2 linked regions of the Homo sapiens genome follow. The protein of the gene in region 2 purifies or fractionates together with the protein of the main gene of each other region. This does not show direct contact. Each region holds a gene or a part of one and is shown on either strand. Other genes may lie near its edges.

Region 1 (8,237 bases), on a different chromosome or scaffold from region 2:
ACTATCTTGGCTGGGGATAGCTGGGCAGGGAAAGACAGGGTTTCCCTGCCTCCCAGCTGACCTGGAAAGGGACAGGTGCACTCTCAGAGAGACCTGAACCTGTGCAAGGGCAATTCTGGGTCCCTCGCCACCCCAATGGCAGCTCTGGGCCCCACCTTACCCCAAGGTCAAGAGCCTGCAGGGCTGCGCGGGAACACCCTGATGGACAAGCAGGACTGTGGGGACCCAGGACTCTGTGGGGTCAGCAGGGCCTCCCAGGGGTAGGAGGGGAAGGGCAGAGGTCACAGGTGGCTGGGATGAGCCTCCCAGGCAGATGAACAGGAAGGTCCCAGCTCCCCCTCTGGCTGTCAAGTGATGGGAAGGTAGGTGAGAGCTGGGCAGGGCTACGGTACCACAGAGACCCCTCCAGAGGGTGCCCCTGGGAAGACTGGGACACCACTTGGGGGTGAGGACAGCTCCATCAGGCCCCACTTCTCATCCACAGGACTTGTGCCACAGCTCTGAAGCTCCTAAGCTCTGGCGCTCCTAAGCTCGCCGCCATCTTCCACACTATCTGGGACCACGAGGACGGGGCCTGGTGTGCATGTGGGCTTTAGCACCAGGTCTGGTCCACACCTCAGGCAGCCCGACGTGTTCTTGAAGACAGTTGTCCACTCGGCGTCCCGTGGCTTGGAGTCCTCGTTGGGCTCACGCTCCCATCCTGAGTGGGGCACGATCACCTCGTGGGTCAGCGTCTGCAGGCCATGGTCAATGATGACCATCTTCAGGGGCTCATAGGATGACAGGTTCCACAGGGTGCCTGTGGGGTGCGATTGGCCAATCTGTGCTGACCATATGCACCGCCTGCCTACCTCCCCAGGTGGCCACGCTCAGGACCTGTCCCACTCTCCTCATGTCCCAGCTCATGCAGAACAGTAGGAAGTAACAAAAGCCGTGAGTGGTTCCGGGGGACACCCAGTACTGGTTTCCAGCTAGGAAGGAGCCCCAAAGGGGAGGAGGTGCAGAGGAGGGTGTGGCAGTGCTGTCCCGTCCCACCCATTCCCTGCCATGTGGCAGGTGGCACTAACACTCCTGAGGCCACAGGGCCTCACAGAGACACGGTGACCCTACCTGTCCCTCAGCTCTCACAAGGCACAAGCCCCACCACTGCACGGTTGGGGTGGGAACCAAGGAGGTGGGTCCCAGGAGAGTTTCTGTGGGGGCAGGAGGTGTGAAGGCAGGAGGTGAGGGGACATGCCCGAGGGGCGCAGCGTCAGCCTCCCTGCTATGGTAGAGACTGGGGAACCTGTCACAGTGTCTGGGCCTGATGCCTGGCTCCTGGGGCAAGCGTCTCAGCAGCTGCACTCCTGCCTACCGGGTGCTTTCCCAGGCGGTCGCAGGCCGAGTGGCCTCGTTCCTCCCGGGTTGAGCCTCACACTCTTCTCTTCCCAGGGGATGTGAGCATGGCCAGGTCCCACTCACCAGTGACAAGCTCACGGACCTCGTTGTCCCGGGCAGCCCTCAGCAGGCGCACCAGGGCAGGCACACCACCGCAGTCCCGGATGGCGGCCTTGTTGTCAGTGTCGCGGCCATAGGAGAGGTTGCGCAGTGCCCCACAGGCCCGGCGCCGCACCTCAGCCCGCGGGTGGTCCAGCAGTGCCACAAGCAGCGGCAGCCCCCGCAACTGCCGTACACGCCGCTTGACACCCTCGTTCTCAAAGCACAGATGCTGCAGGTAGGCGGCCGCATTGGCCTTCACGGGGTCCACGGGGTGCCGCAGCATGGCCAGCACCTCAGGCAGCTCAGGGTCCCGCCAGCGCGGCTCCTTGCGGGCGCTATCCACTGAGGGCGAGCGCCGCACCAGCCGGTCCAGGCTGCCCATGCTGCCCCGTTCAGGCTGGGCCAGGGGCGCCGTCACCATTGGGAACGCAGGCCGCTCGTCCGCCAGCTCGCCGCCATCATCTGCTGTGTCCTCGTAGGCCCTGCACAGGCAAGTGGGGCGCGTGGACATCGTCACAGCAGCCGCCAGCCCTGCCTCTGAGCTGCCCCATCACACCTTCTTCAGGACTGCAAACTCACCCAGCAGCGCTGGGCTGAGAGCACCTGTATCTTGGCCCGGAGCATGGTGGGGACACAGAGAGTCATGCACCAGCCCAGTGAGAACCAATTCAGAGCCAAATGCCAAACCCCAGCCAGCGGCTACCAGGACCCAGGCAACCCTCCCAGGACAGCAAACTCACTCACTGCTGTCACCGGGCAGTTTCCCAATCCCGAGCAAAACAAGTTTCTGTGAGACATCTGCTATGGCTGCTGGAGAGACCGTCTCACCTCCCTTCCACAAAACCACCCCATCTTCCATGAGGCCCATCTCTGGCTGTGCCAGGATGTAGGGGGAGTAAATGGCCCTCTCCGCATGAAGCCATCCCAGTAGGACCACCTGAGGAGTATTCAGGCCACCAGCCCCTTGGGGCACAAGATCTCCTTAGCTCTCAGTAGCCCTGTGGGTTGCTGTCATCAAACCGCCTGCCCTGAGGCTAGGAGTGACGGTCAGGTGACTTGGCCAGGGTCACACAACAAAATCCTGACCCGGGCTGTGGTCACATCCCCACTCCAGAGATGCAGAAACTGAGGGCAATGGGGACAGAACCAGGGGCTGTGACAAGGGCCAGGGCTCTGGGTTCTGGTTACCCAGAGTGTGGCTGGAGCAAGGCCAGTGGCCGGCACTCTTCCCAGCTTTCCTGGGCCCTGGGCCTGCAGGACAGTGCCCAGCCGAACTCCTACCACCCCAGGGTCCACCTTTCTTCTGTCCCTGACGAGAGCCAAGGCCAATTCAAACTAACATGCATGACTAACTCAACTGCGCCACTTGACAAGTGGGGCACTCTGTAGTTGGGGGGTGGAGGGCAGACTTCCCAGAGGAGGTAGCCACAGGGGACGGGGTGCAGCTCACCTGGTATGAAGGCCCCGCCCACACTCAGGCCTCCTCCTTGTGGCCGTGCCATAGTCAGGCTCCAGCTCAGGGCCACCCTCGTCATCAGCGGCCAGGCTGCGCGTGTCATCCTCCAAGCCATACGGCTCTGCCTGGAAGCGCTCGGGCAGGGAGCGGCCACCTGGTGGCCCAGGCTCAGGACCCACCGGGAAGGCTTCCCGGTGGCCAGGCAGTGTGAAGCAGCCATCACCAGGGCCTGGGCCAAGGGGGCCAGCACGTGGGGGCCGCATGCCCAGCCCTCGGGACAGGCTGCCATAGCTGGGGCTGTCCCGGGGCTCGGGGCCTTCGGGAAAGCCACCCCCACTGCTGAGGTAGGCTCGAGAGAGTGTGGCCACTGGGCCACCACCACGCAGCAGGAAATGCCGGTCCAGGGCACCATCTGCAAAAGGGCCTAGTGGGGGGCCGCCATCCAGCAGGGGGAGTCCATCTGGGCCCACGGGCACCTGGCGTACTGTCCGAGTGGTCACCGTCTTGACAGTCTTGGTGACCTGGTGGATGGATAGGCAGGTAGGTGGGGTAGCACGAGAGGCCTAGAAACTGCTTTGCTGGGGTCTGGCTGGCCTTAATTTCCCACTCGAGCAATGAGAGGCCCCACGTGGCAAGCTTCCATGTCCACTCTGCAGGTGGGACAGCTGCAGCAGCCTGGCCCTGCTCACCCACCCACTGCCTGGGCCTGGCCATACCTTGGTCTCGGTGCGCCGGGTTGTGCCATCTTCGGATGTGACAATAGACACATGGGAAGTGGGTGTGCCGGGGTCCTCCTCCACCGTCACGGTCTCCTCCAGCACATCAGGTGCCTCCGGCATCGTGGCCAGTGAGGCCTGGCTGCCTGGGCTCTGCTCCTGGGGCAAGGAGGGACATTGGTGGGCAGGCCTGCTGCTCAGTCACCCCTGGAGTGCAGGTCTCCACACACAGCAGCTCTGCCTCAGCTCATGCTGGCCAGCACACCAGGGTGCCTTCCTCCTGGTCCTGAACCCACCCACCCCAAGGCCTGTTTCGGCCCAAGCTGACAAGGACAGCAATAAGTTCTTGCCCTCTGAACATCGAGGTGCTAACCCTGCCCCGGCACCCCATCCTGGGGGGACCCTGGGGCTGGACCCCCATCTCAGGTCTCCTCAGGCTGAGTTGGCAGATAAGGACATAGACCCTGGGGGGTGAAGTCTTCAGGGCCCTCCCCAAGCTGCATGGCCTGGCTGCCACAGGCTCCTCCAGGCCCCAGGAGGTGCCAGTGAGACCTGCAGCATGCCTTCCTGATGTCAACCACCACCCCTAGCTGGGACATCATGGTGTCCTGGGGCCTCCTCCCTCACCTGCCCCAGACACCTTGAGTATAGAAGCCTTGTGGGGGCTGTTTCAGCACTGCCTACTGACTCCTGTGGCCACACTAAGGTTCCCGCCACCAACGCCAGCCAGACGCCCTCAAGGGACAGAAATACGCAGTTCCCAGAACACCCCATGCACCTGCAGCACCAGTATGTCCTTATTCCTTCCAGCCCAGACATTCTTGAGTGTTGTGTAGGCACAGGTTTGCCCTACCTCGGGCCAGTGGCTGGCGCCCCCAGTGACTGAGACTCTGGGCATCATATCAGAGACCAGACACAGTAGATTTGAGCCTATGGGTGCCCTTGCCACCATTCTGCATGGGGTGACGACACTGGAATTCTAGGCAAGACAACTCTGGACTGAGACTTTTCTATCCACATGCCTACTGACTGGACTTGCCAGTGGGGAAACTGAGGCTCAAAGAGGATAGGCTGGCCCACATCAGAGCCAGGCCCAACCCCTGCCGCGCTGAGTGGCTTGAGGACCTAAGACTCACAGCCTGCCCCGGGCCTCTGACTGCACAGGTGCCTGGCCCCAGGGCCACATGGCACCAACATCCGGGGATCGGCATCTAGCCAGGATGGGCAGGAGCTGAAACCCAAGCCCTGGTGGGTGGGTCAGGCGGAGCACATTCCCAGGCAGCCAGGGCAGGGTCAGCAGGAGGACAGGTCCTGCTTTGTGGCCCAGGCCCCTGGTCCCTGCACAATGGGTCCCTTGCCTGGGCCCCCTGGGGCCTGCACAGACACTAAGCTCTGCCAGGCTCCAGAGGCAGACTCTGCCCATTCTTGGGCCTGGGAGGTGAGCCAGGTTAGATGCTCAGCGCTGCCCTCAGGACCTGCCTGCCAAGGCTCGTGGGCTGGGAAGCCTCCCCAGGTCAGGGTCCTATCCTGGGGGAATACTTGACCCCCAAATGCATGCAGTGCAGGTGTCCAGGAAGGGGCCTGCACCAACATGTTAGGACAGGTGTATCCCTCAGGCTGACAGAGGAAAGAAGTGGCCACAGAAGGCACCTCCCCCTCTCCCACAGGCAGGGTCTTGGAGGATGACAGATAACTTTATAGATGGGGAAACTGAGGCCTGGCAGGGGGAAGAGGATTTACCTAGAACTTCACAGTCCAAGTGGGATTTCAAGCACCCCCAGAGAAGGCAATCTGGCAAGGAAGGCTTTGGGCCTCATCTCGCCCTCAGTCTTGAGATGTAGGTGGAATGCCTGCTGTGGACCTGGCTAGGAAAAGGGGACCTGTTCCCTGGGAAAAAGAAATAGACTGAGGCCTAGAGTGGGGACAACTGGCACGCTGCCAGGCAGGGCAGGCTGGGCTCTTCTCCAAAGGCACTGGGGAGCTGGGACTGCTCTGAAGCAGGAGAAGGCTTGTGTGGCCCATCACTGCTGGGGCTGGGCTGCCCCATCTGTATCTGGCAAATGTGTGTCAGGCCCTGAGCTCTCTCTGCTGGGCCCTGGGCGGGGCTCATCTGAGTTCAAGCAGGGGCCCAGGCACTGAGGGGCTGCAGTTCTGGCGACAGAGTGAGGAGGGTATAAAGCAAGACTGAGGAAACGTTACCCAGGACTCTGCCAGTGGGATGTAGCCCCTCATATATGTATATATTTACATCTATTAAAAACTCAGAGAAAAACCCCCTCTTCCCTAGCTAGGCAGTGGGGGTAAGCGGGAGAGGAAAAGGGGAGGACATCTCAGGACCCCGATGCCACTCTGTGGCCCAGCTTATCCCTCCCACCAAGGCTGTGGTGAGGGTCTGACAGGCAGAGCTGGGGTGGTCCAGGAGAGCCACGCCCCCGCAGCAAGACCTGGCAACCCTGCGGCACCACCCATCAGCCCCGGCCTAGCAGCCCCGCAGTAGGATCCAGAGGCCCCAAGAGTCCCTGCTGGCAAATGACCTCAGGGAGCTAAAAACGAGGGATGACTTCACCCGGGTGGCAGGTGCATGAGTCAGCCAGTGATCACAGGAAAGCCCGGCCCCTGCTACACATGCCCAGGCACACACACATGCATATACATGACCCCTCAGACAGGGACACATGCATGTACATACACGTGTGCAAGTACCCAGCCCGGCACAGGCCGAGCACATCAACCCGTGTGCTCTAACAGCACCCCAAGGGCACGGCGCCCACTGTTCCCAGAGGCACACTCGTGAGCACACATCCTCCCGTCCTCCACCGTGTATCGGAGACCCTTATCCATGCAGGGCCTCACAGAGTCTCAACACACAGGGACAGGGGCCACCAACTCTGCCAATCATCTGCCCAGCATCCACTCTGGGAGTCTCAGAGCTGGCTGGCAGATGGAGAAACTGAGGTGTAGAGTAGTGAGAGGCCCATAGCCAGCTGGTGGCTCAGCTCTCTGCAACATCTTTAGGGTGGGGCTGTGGAATGGTGGGCTGACTCTCAACAGGAGTTGGCTGCAGTCCCTGGATCCCTGTCTGGCCCCAGTGTCCATGTCTGACGTGCACCTGCCCAGGCTGGCCCACTCTCAGGGACCCTGGCCCTGCAGCCCCACACAGCCTCTGCCTCAGACCCAACTCTGGGCTGCTCCCCTCTGTACCCTAGACATGGGCTCTACCCTGAACACCCCACCTCCAGCCCAATCCCACATGCTGCATCCTGTCAGTCGTCTCTCATCACCCCCTCCCCAGCTGGGGCCCCATCCTTGCTCCTCTTGCACCCCGCCCGGCCTCCCAGCACTCATCCCTCCCTTGGCTCTTCAATCTCTGGTGCACCAGGTCTGGGGCCCCCAGGACTGGCCCAGAAACAGGCTGCTGCCCAGGCCTGGGGTTTCCCATGAGCTCCCTTGGGCTTGTGGGAGGGGCCAGAGTGACCAGGGAGGTAGACCACCTACCCCTGCTCACAAGAGGGTCCCGGGAACACAGGGCTGAGCCCAGCATAGGGGCTCTGGGCCCCATCACGCACCTTCGGCTCAGCTTCTTCACAAGGAGGTGAGAAGGACAGAGGGGGCTGGGGTCGTGGGACGTGCTGGGTAGCATCAGTCTCACTTTTGTGGCAAAATGCAAGGAACACAGGGAGCAGAAAAGCAAGATTGGACCAACACACAGAGGGATGCTGGGGCACAGGTGGCTGGGCCCTGGTCCCATATTACTTATCTACCCAAACCACCGGACTTCACAGATGCACCACGGTCTGTGTCCTGAAGAACAGACTGCAGGGGCAGGCCCCTCCCCTGTCCAAGGCCTGGCTAGCACACACAGAGAATGAGTTAAGGTGAGATTGCACACCTGGATCCCACACCTGCAGGCCAGGCTCCCAGAGGGCAGGAGGTGGCTGCTGTCCGATGGATGAATGAATGAATCTTCTCCATCCCCATTATGGCCCTCCCAGGTAGAGTCCAGGACAAGCCAGGCTGGCATCTCTCACCAGGCAGCAAGCCCTTGGCCACCACAAAATGCCCTTTCCCTTGGTGCCACAGCCTCTGACCAGTCTCCAAGACCTGGAGCTTACTTCTCCACACAGCAGTGCACCTGCCAGGGCGTGGCCCCAGGCAGAGATGCCAAAAAGCCAAGCTGGGGGAGCAAACTTGGGGTGGGAGAGCAGGGCTGACTGTCATCCACCTCAGCTTCCCCAAGCTCAGCTTGGGGTCATCAGACACACTGTGACCATGGATTTCCCAAAAACTGGTCCCTCCACCTCTGAGGGCCAGACCCTGGGGGCCACACCAGGGCCGTAGGACAGGCAGGGGCCTAGTTGCCCAGGTAGCAGGTGTGTGGGAGACCTGCCTCCCACCACAGAGGGTCTTGGCTGGTCTCTCCTCTGCTCAGTTTCCCTGCCTGTTACTGAACCCAGCACTGCTCTGAGCAGAGGACAAACTGCCTATGCCTCCCCCCACCTCAATGCTGAGAGGGGGAGGATCCCGTTTTCCTTAGAGATCTCCTCCAGCATCCATTAGTGGGCAGGGCCTGTCTCTATCCCTCCCAT
Region 2 (8,237 bases):
TAATTAGAAACATTGCATAGGACGGAGAACTTCCCTGTATGGAAACCAATCTACAGATTGTTTCTTGTCCTCTAAAAAGTAAGTTGAGAGGTACTAATGATGGCAAATAATCCATTTATATTTTACAAAATAAAACATTTCACTAATATATGGCTCATCCTACCTCTGTGGCAATACAAAATGCCATTTCAAATTTTTTTTAAAAAGATTGTGTGAATACTTCGGGTGAGAATAAAATATAAAATACTATCTATATAAAGAATAAACACATAAAATACAGTTATGCCTTTTAAAAGTTTGGACAGACGTATCTTCATAGAGAGATGCAAACAATGAAAGTGTAGTTATAGGTCCAAACTTAGCCAAAATATGACAGTTTTAATATAATAGTTTGTTTGAAAAAAAGTAGTCAGACTTCATCCAAACCACCCTTGCGGTACAATATTTCTTGCATAAAATAACCATTCTATCTATCCTATAGTTTATCTTAAAACTGTTAAGAGCACATAATAAAAGTTTATATGCTTATTTTTTACTCTAAATCTGAATAAATAAAACATATAGAGAAATAATAGCAGAAAGGAAAATAATTTATATGGCTATTCTCTTTCTGGAAACTTGTAGAATACTGCAACATCAGACAGATAAAATACTCCAGAAAGAGATATATATGGGTACACCTTTAAATTCTCTTCTGAGGAATAATTCCCATAGATTCAATCATAGGAGTTGTCAACCCTGATAATACCTCTCTTAGCTGTTTTGGTTCTCTGTATCGAGATGAACCAGAATCAAAGGGTTTTTTTTTTTTTCTGTTTCTTGCATGAAATATATTTGTAAACAATATAATAAAAGTAATTTTTAAAGACCTATAAAGAATGAATTTTCTATTGGACTATTCTAATACTATCTAGCAGTTTAAATGGTTTTTAAAGAAGTAGACTGGACTATAACATAGTTCTACAATTCTAGCTATAATATATTTTGAGAGATACTTTCTACAAAACAAAAACGACTAAAGGGCAGAAAAATGATTCCACACTAAGAAGGCATTGGTGCCTCTAGAAGTTGGCCCAATCTAAATTTGCACAAGGATTTTTTCAATTTTCAAAGCATTTTCCTTGTTTAAGTCGGTCAATGTAGTAGCATAGCTTCACAGCCGTTCCCAGCTTCACCCCCAAGTGCTTCAGCAACACGTCACTCGTGAGTAGGAGCAGAGCCTTCCCGTCAATTTCCTATGGAGAGAAGAAACTTAACGATAATTAATAATGCTTCCATATTTTCATCAGAATGGTTAGTTCTTTATGAGAACATGTAAAGCAAACTAGAGAGCAGCTCATTGCAGATGTATATTCTCTGAATATGCGTCTACTTTATGAAAACTATTAAAAATATAACTTGTACAGTGAAGCACCGTTTGGTAATGTATAAACTCATTTCAAGTTCTGAGAAAAAGGAAATTTAACATAATATCTTAAAAAATAAACTGTGTCAAACTTAATTTTAAATATATACTGTATGTTGAATAAAATACTACACATCCATGACAAAATAGTAAAGACTATGAATAGTAAAAATGAATTTCAGATGTTCATTAACTTTCTGAGAAGGGCTGGGAAGATGAGTACGTCAACATCAGTGCAAACTGTAAATGTCTATACAATGTTGTCTTTATGATGAATGCCAATTAGTTGTCTGAAACTAATTAGATGCTAAAACTAATCACCAATTTTCTTACTATATTAAAAATCAGATATGTGGCTACTAATTTTGTTAGGACACACTGTGAAAATATCTGAATAAATAAAACATAGTCACAAAGCATTCTCCTAAAATTCCTTATCTTAATTGATCAACTTATGCTGCTGAAGCATATGATTTGGTTTTATATGTTCCAGTTAAAAAATAAAATTTTATTTACTCATTTAACACTATCTGAAAAGGTCTGAAATCCCTTATAGTACAACCTTTGTTTGGCACCTTCTATACTTTTTCTACTAAGTAAAACTCAAAATTAAAGAAACTAGAACTTACAAAACTTCGGCCTAGGATATTACTTTGTAAATGGTCTGATAATAGCAAGAGGGTATTAGCATTACAAATCATCAATAATCGAGGCAAATGGAATCAGTTGTTGAATCACTGGTTATATAAAACGAAGGCCACCCTGTTATAGCTTGTGGTTACCCCCTCCTCCTCGTGGTCCTGGTGCCCAGCTGGGAGCAGATAGGGGGAGGATCTTTGTATCTGTCATTACAAAGGGGAGGTACACCTGAGTGGCCATGCTGAATCATCATGTCTTAAGAAGCTGAGGCAGTTTGTATTTTAGGCACTTCTACACCCATTTAAAGAACAGACCATTAGCCTACCATTTAAGGCTAACCTTGGGCAAAATAAGCTTTCTCATATATGGAAAAATCAGCTAATAGGGTTCTCCCACCATTCACACAGTATCCAACTGAAAGACCTGCACAGAGGTCATTCAAAGGCATTACAGCAGGAAAACAGGATCAAAAGATACATTACATGGCTTCTGAAGAGGTCGACAAGAGGGCATAATGCAAGAGGATCTGTTTGTTTTAGAAATAGGACCACTGCTTCCACCGACCAGGTTGAAGGGTGCTTAGTGATGCTTCCTTCCTCTATGTAACCGTCATTTTCAACTGGTGACCTTGTAACTTCAATGGAGAGGGGGAAAAGAAAAAAAAGACAAATCACACTCGACCTGATCATTATCCTGAAAGAAGAGATGTTAGGTAAGGAGGAATGCTCTCTTTGTTGGAACCTTCTGTGATGTTCCTAGCAAGGAGTCAAGACTCCAACTGTAAAATCTAGTGAAAGCCTATATAAAGATGATGTGGGGATGCCTACACAAGAGTGTCCCATCTGACCTCCCCTAAATAGCAAAAGCTGGTTCAGAAGTTACATTAAAGTTTCAAAGATCACAAAACAGACTAAGTAAACCAAGTCTTCTTTGGCCACAGGCAAATATGGCAAAAGATCTGTCACTTGGGTAAAATTAGGTTAATCTAACCTAACCTATGACTCTCTTCAAGTATTTCAAGGAATTTCTCTCTTAATCTATCTAGATTAGGTTAATTTTACTAGCAAAATATAATGGAAATTCTCCAAATTTACAGTTTTATAATTGCTTAAATTTGTTCCTTTTAATCAATGAATCTCAATAACAACCCCATTATCTTTAAGAACCAAATTAGTACTTTTATCAAATCTTCCCCACGTATTCAATAAGGTTATTTTTAGTATCGCTTTACTTTTTAGATTCCTGTCTCTCGTGGCTTAAGTGCTAATGTGCATTGTGAAGAAAACAAGATTATTTTCTGCTGAACTAGGTCAGAAGTAACTAACATTTTATTTAATTCCTCTTTCATGTTTAATTGCATAGTAATAGAGATTTTGGTCAAAGGTTTATATGTTTAAAAAATAACTGAGATATGAGACAGTTTAACTGCTCATACTTCAGAAAGTTTTAGCTATGCTCTACACTAAGTTGTGTTGAAATTTCTTTGTGTACTGACAAGTATCCTTTTACTCACCCACAGTGTTAGACTCCCTAAAATTAGTGTGTGATGACTAAAGTGGGTTTTGTAATTAGTTAGGAAAATTTGTTTCTCCAACCAGGACCATCAACACAATTTGATCTTTTTGTGTGTGTGAATTAGCCAAAAACATACCCTTTCTTCCCTACCATCTGGGCTCTTGCCATATCAGGAGTGTTTTTTATTTATCTAGGGAAAGGGTAAATAAAAATAGAAGATTTGGAAAAGCACAATGGGGCAGAGTTCTAGAAGTGCTACTCACCAGCTCTGTGATCGTGGGGATGGCGTAATAAATGTGCCAAAACCATGGGGTCATTATGAGTATAAGTGGAGAAGAGGCATGTCAGCTGATTGGTGCAGTGCCTTGCACATAATATGCATTGAATAAATGTTAGTCATCATTCTGAATATCACCTAAAACCAGCCCTCAAAATAGGAAACGAACAGCTTCCACTAGTTTGCATCAAGGATGTTGATAAATATAGGTCAAATAGTGCTACTTGTAAATATGGCATTTCAAACTCACCAAACCAGAAGGGAAGCAGAGAGATGATCCAGTATACCTATTCTCCATCAAAGCTGAGTAACTCATCATCTCAGGGGCATGTACCAAATTGGGCTCTCCCTGGGCCAGCATACCTGAAGGTGGTGCTGCAGAAGCATGGTCAGTTGAGTAAGTGTTGTGGATGCTGTCAGCCCGAGGGTTGCCAAGGCAGAGCCCTGAAGAAGAACCATACGTTGCACCATCAGATGCATAATACGGCTGACAATTATGCTCAGAGAAATCTGAGGGATGCACTGGACTCGGAGTGCGGCTGAGGATCGGGTCCTCCTCCAGCTCAGCTCGCTGGTATTCTTCCATGCAAAAGGATGGCCTTGGAAGGTTGCTCGGGGAATTATTCTCACGCCTTGACACTGGTAAAGTGGGGCTGTAACTTTCAGGGTAGGAGAATGTCTCGTAAACCTCATTTTTCTTCATTTTCTGGAGTTTAAGCTTTTTAACAAGCCGGTAAGAATGCTTTTTATATCCATATCGCTTCTGAAATCACACAAACACAGCATAAACCAACAGTGAGTAAAAAAGTAAATAAAATTAGTAGCAAATACATTAATACTTATTTTCCATGCAACATTGCTTTACATTATTAAAAATAAATGGTCCCTTTTGATTATATAATTCTTCAATCCTACATTTTAATTGTATTTTACACATTATAATTACAAACATAAAAATAGGCAGCATCATAAATTATCAAACCTAAACTTCAGCGTTCTCCCAACAGAGTTTAGTCTCCATCTACTGTTACAAGTATAGACATGCCTTGCTAATCTCACACAGATACTGGTACTCTCTCACTTCTAGCTCATTGGCATCTTTACAAACCAGAGGTTTATCACAGTTGTAAAAATGTTTTTTATAACACTTACATGATTTGTCCACAGGGATCTCGCATGGAAACGTTGGATTTTTGAAACCTTTCTACGAATCACATCAATCTTCTTATCCAGGTTTTGCAGAGCATCATATATAACCTATTATAATACAATGTAGTCATATAATTGGTATACAATGTAAAATATAATTTTTTATTTCAAAGAAAAGTAACGTGAAAATACCATTAAGTCAAATGTTAACTGCTAGACACAACAAAAGTTCTCAAGCCATCAGAAATGTCTTGCTCCTATTCAAGGCCTGGCTGTAGGTGACACAGAGCCAACAGGCTGAGCTAGAGTAGTCCCCTCCCCTGCTCTACTCCATGTAGGAATTGAGGAAGCTCTAATGCTGGTGAATGAATGTCCCACAATGCCTCTATGCTAGCACATTGATGATGAAGACACTGCACATCAAGGAAGGTGCTATTTTAGGAAAGAAATCTGCTAAAAGAACAAAGACTCACTTTATGATATACATATGTAACATATATGTTCATATATGTACAAATATGAAGTCTATATTATATACAGACAGTGAGTGTTCCACTCCAGAAAGAACACTGAACCAAATATAACAGATGTGACTTTTGGCTTCAAAGTATTTTTAAATCACGCAGTCAGCAATTAATCTTACAAAACCGTTAAGTACACATCTCTTACGCGCCAATCGAACACATAGGAGACTGATAAAAGTCTGAGAATTCTTCTTGAAATACACAGAGACTTTGGGCAAAGAAAAATACACTTAAGCAAAGGGCCAGAAACATTGCAATCAAGCACATAGGAGGCTGATAAAAATCTGAGAATTCTTCTTGAAATACACAGAAACTTTGGGCAAAGAAAAATACACTTAAACAAAGGGCCAGAAACATTTCCTCATTCATTCATTCATTCATTCATTCACTCATTCAACTAAACCTTTATTGATGGCCTACCACCTGGCAGAACTACTTTGCTAGGTATTGAGAACATGGACCGAAAAAAAAAGCTCCTGGCCGGGTGCGGTGGCTCATGCCTGTAATCCCAGCACTTTGGGAGGCTAAGGCAGGTGAATCGCTTGAGCTCAGGAGTTGGAGACAAGCCTAGGCAACATGGCGAAACCCCCGTCTCTACCAAAAATACACAAAATCAGCCAAGCGTGGTGGTGCATGCCTGTAGTCCATGCTACTAGGAAGGCTGAGGTGGGAGAATCACCTGAGCCTGGGAAGTTGTGGCTGCAGTGAGCCATGACTGAGCCACTGCACTCCAGCCTGTCCTAGAGGAACTACCATCTCAGCTGGGAGAGAGACAAGTAAAAAGAGGATTCCAGCAGACAAAGTGATAAACAGCCTGGAACAGTGGTTTGCAAAGTGTGGTCCACGGACTGGTAGCATCAACATCACCTGTAAGCTCATCAGAAATGCCAAATGCCAGGTTGTACCCCAGACCTATGGAACCTGGAACTCTGAGAGTGGGGGCAGTGGTCTATGTTTTCACAAGCCCCCCAGGTGATTCTGATGGCCCTAGTGAGAACCACAGGGCTGCGGCACTGAGATAAACAGTGCAGGCTCTTGGGGAACATGGTTGGGGTCAAATACTACAGTCCAGCCACTTATTGGCTGTGTGACCCAGGGCAAGTTACTTAACCTCTCTGTGCTTCAGTGTCCTCATGTAGGGAATCAGGATGAAAAGCTCTCTCAGGGTTCTCTCGAGGACGAGAACCTTGCTATAGTATTAGGTTAATACTAACAGTAACAGCACTACACTACACCCGGTCCAACAGTGCTCAGTGGTCTCTTCATGTTACTATTGTTATTACCAGTGGCGTGACACAGGTGGGAACAGGAGGCTAAGCCTGCACAGAAAAGCAGTCCTAACCCAGGCTGCAGTCACGGAGACCTTTTCAGAGGAGGTGAGGTCTGAAGTGAGAATTAAAACATGAGAAGGCCCTCGCCAGGTGAGGATGCATGGAAGGGCTTACAGCATAGAAGGAACAGCAGGTTCATAAATACCCAGAGAGAAAAACAGGAAGCCAGGTGTGGAGACAGCAAGTATGAATGACATTCCAGGAGTGGGGCTGTCACAGGAAGAAGAGAGTGAGGATGACAGGAAAGGAGGGATGGGAAGCAAGAGAAGTGGCTTCTCCAAGATGTGGGAGAACTCGTAGAGGGGAAGGAGGGACAGGGACTGGAGCCAGAGGAGAGAGAGGGGGATGCCCGATGGGGGGCAGCTCTGAGTTCAGGGAGGGGACTAGATGCAGAAAGCAGCAAGGGTGTCAGCCCTGGTCACTAGAATGGCCGGGAAGGGGTCAGAAGAAGGGCAGGGATGAGGGCAGTTGGTTGGCTGTGGGGACAGTTATGAGGACTCGGAGGAGAGGACTGCCCCAGGTGCTCCACTATCTCCACGAGTGAAGAGGCAGGACTAGGGAGCTGAGGTAGGCAGGGGATGGCGAGGTCTTCCTCTGCTTCCAGACTAAGCAGGATGGAGACAGACTCAAGAGGGAACTGGGATGAAAGAACAAGGCAGGCTGGAGTGCCACCTCTGTGATCTAGAACGGGTAGGGGAAGAAAGAGCCAGCCCCTTGGCAGCAATGGAGAGGGGCCCTTGGGGCCATTTCAGGCTGACCATGGCCCTGGACACCTCCCCCCACAGATGCTACCTCCCACCTCAGCGTATAAGCTGACCTAGACCATGACCTAGCAGTGCATGGGGAGGCAGGCTGGGGAGAACCTGCTCCCTCCCTTCCCAGCTCGCCTCTGCACCCACTTCCCCCCAAGACTGTATGTGTCCCTTGGAAGCACTCCACTTCTGTTCTCCTCCATGATCATGATAAACACCCAAACAATTTTACTTTCCAAAGTATGTTAGCTCATTCCATTCAAGAAACCTTATATATGGTAAGAAACATTATATATATATAAACCTTCATTACCTCTGGGGTATGCAACTCACAAAATTCCCAGTAATCACATCTCTACCAACATGGTGATTCTTAAAACAACTCCTCAAAACTACCTTAGGTATGTTTCTTTACTAAACCTTGATGGGCTGCCACTTTGTTTCCATTGAGATATCTTGATGTGCATTTAGGCACATACTAAATTTCATCCAAATCAGTCAATTTCCTTTAAGGATTTTGTAGGGGAAACTAATTTAATACTGAGCAATGTAGATGAAAGAGACATAACTACATTTGGTTGGTAATGGGCTTTTTAAAAAGCTATTAAATCTACATGTTGCTATTCAGGAAATGTGGTTCTAACT

The links.
Region 1: the proteins of SCML1 (region 2) and ARVCF purify together in Homo sapiens (co-immunoprecipitation; 2 studies listed by BioGRID and IntAct, with this or other methods). This does not show direct contact.

What each region holds. Positions count from the first base shown.
Region 1 is NC_000022.11:19,978,282-19,986,518, forward strand, and holds part of ARVCF (splicing regulator ARVCF), read right to left. Parts: exon of another isoform or gene 5,392-8,237; intron 3,811-5,391; coding exon 3,652-3,810; intron 3,457-3,651; coding exon 2,930-3,456; intron 1,962-2,929; coding exon 1,462-1,961; intron 1,412-1,461; exon of another isoform or gene 1,111-1,411; intron 800-1,110; coding exon 616-799; intron 1-615. UniProt on the Homo sapiens protein: Contributes to the regulation of alternative splicing of pre-mRNAs.
Region 2 is NC_000023.11:17,746,256-17,754,492, reverse strand, and holds part of SCML1 (sex comb on midleg-like protein 1), read right to left. Parts: intron 5,094-8,237; coding exon 4,989-5,093; intron 4,600-4,988; coding exon 4,200-4,599; intron 2,679-4,199; coding exon 2,527-2,678; intron 1,236-2,526; coding exon 1,101-1,235; 3' UTR 1-1,100. UniProt on the Homo sapiens protein: Putative Polycomb group (PcG) protein. PcG proteins act by forming multiprotein complexes, which are required to maintain the transcriptionally repressive state of homeotic genes throughout development.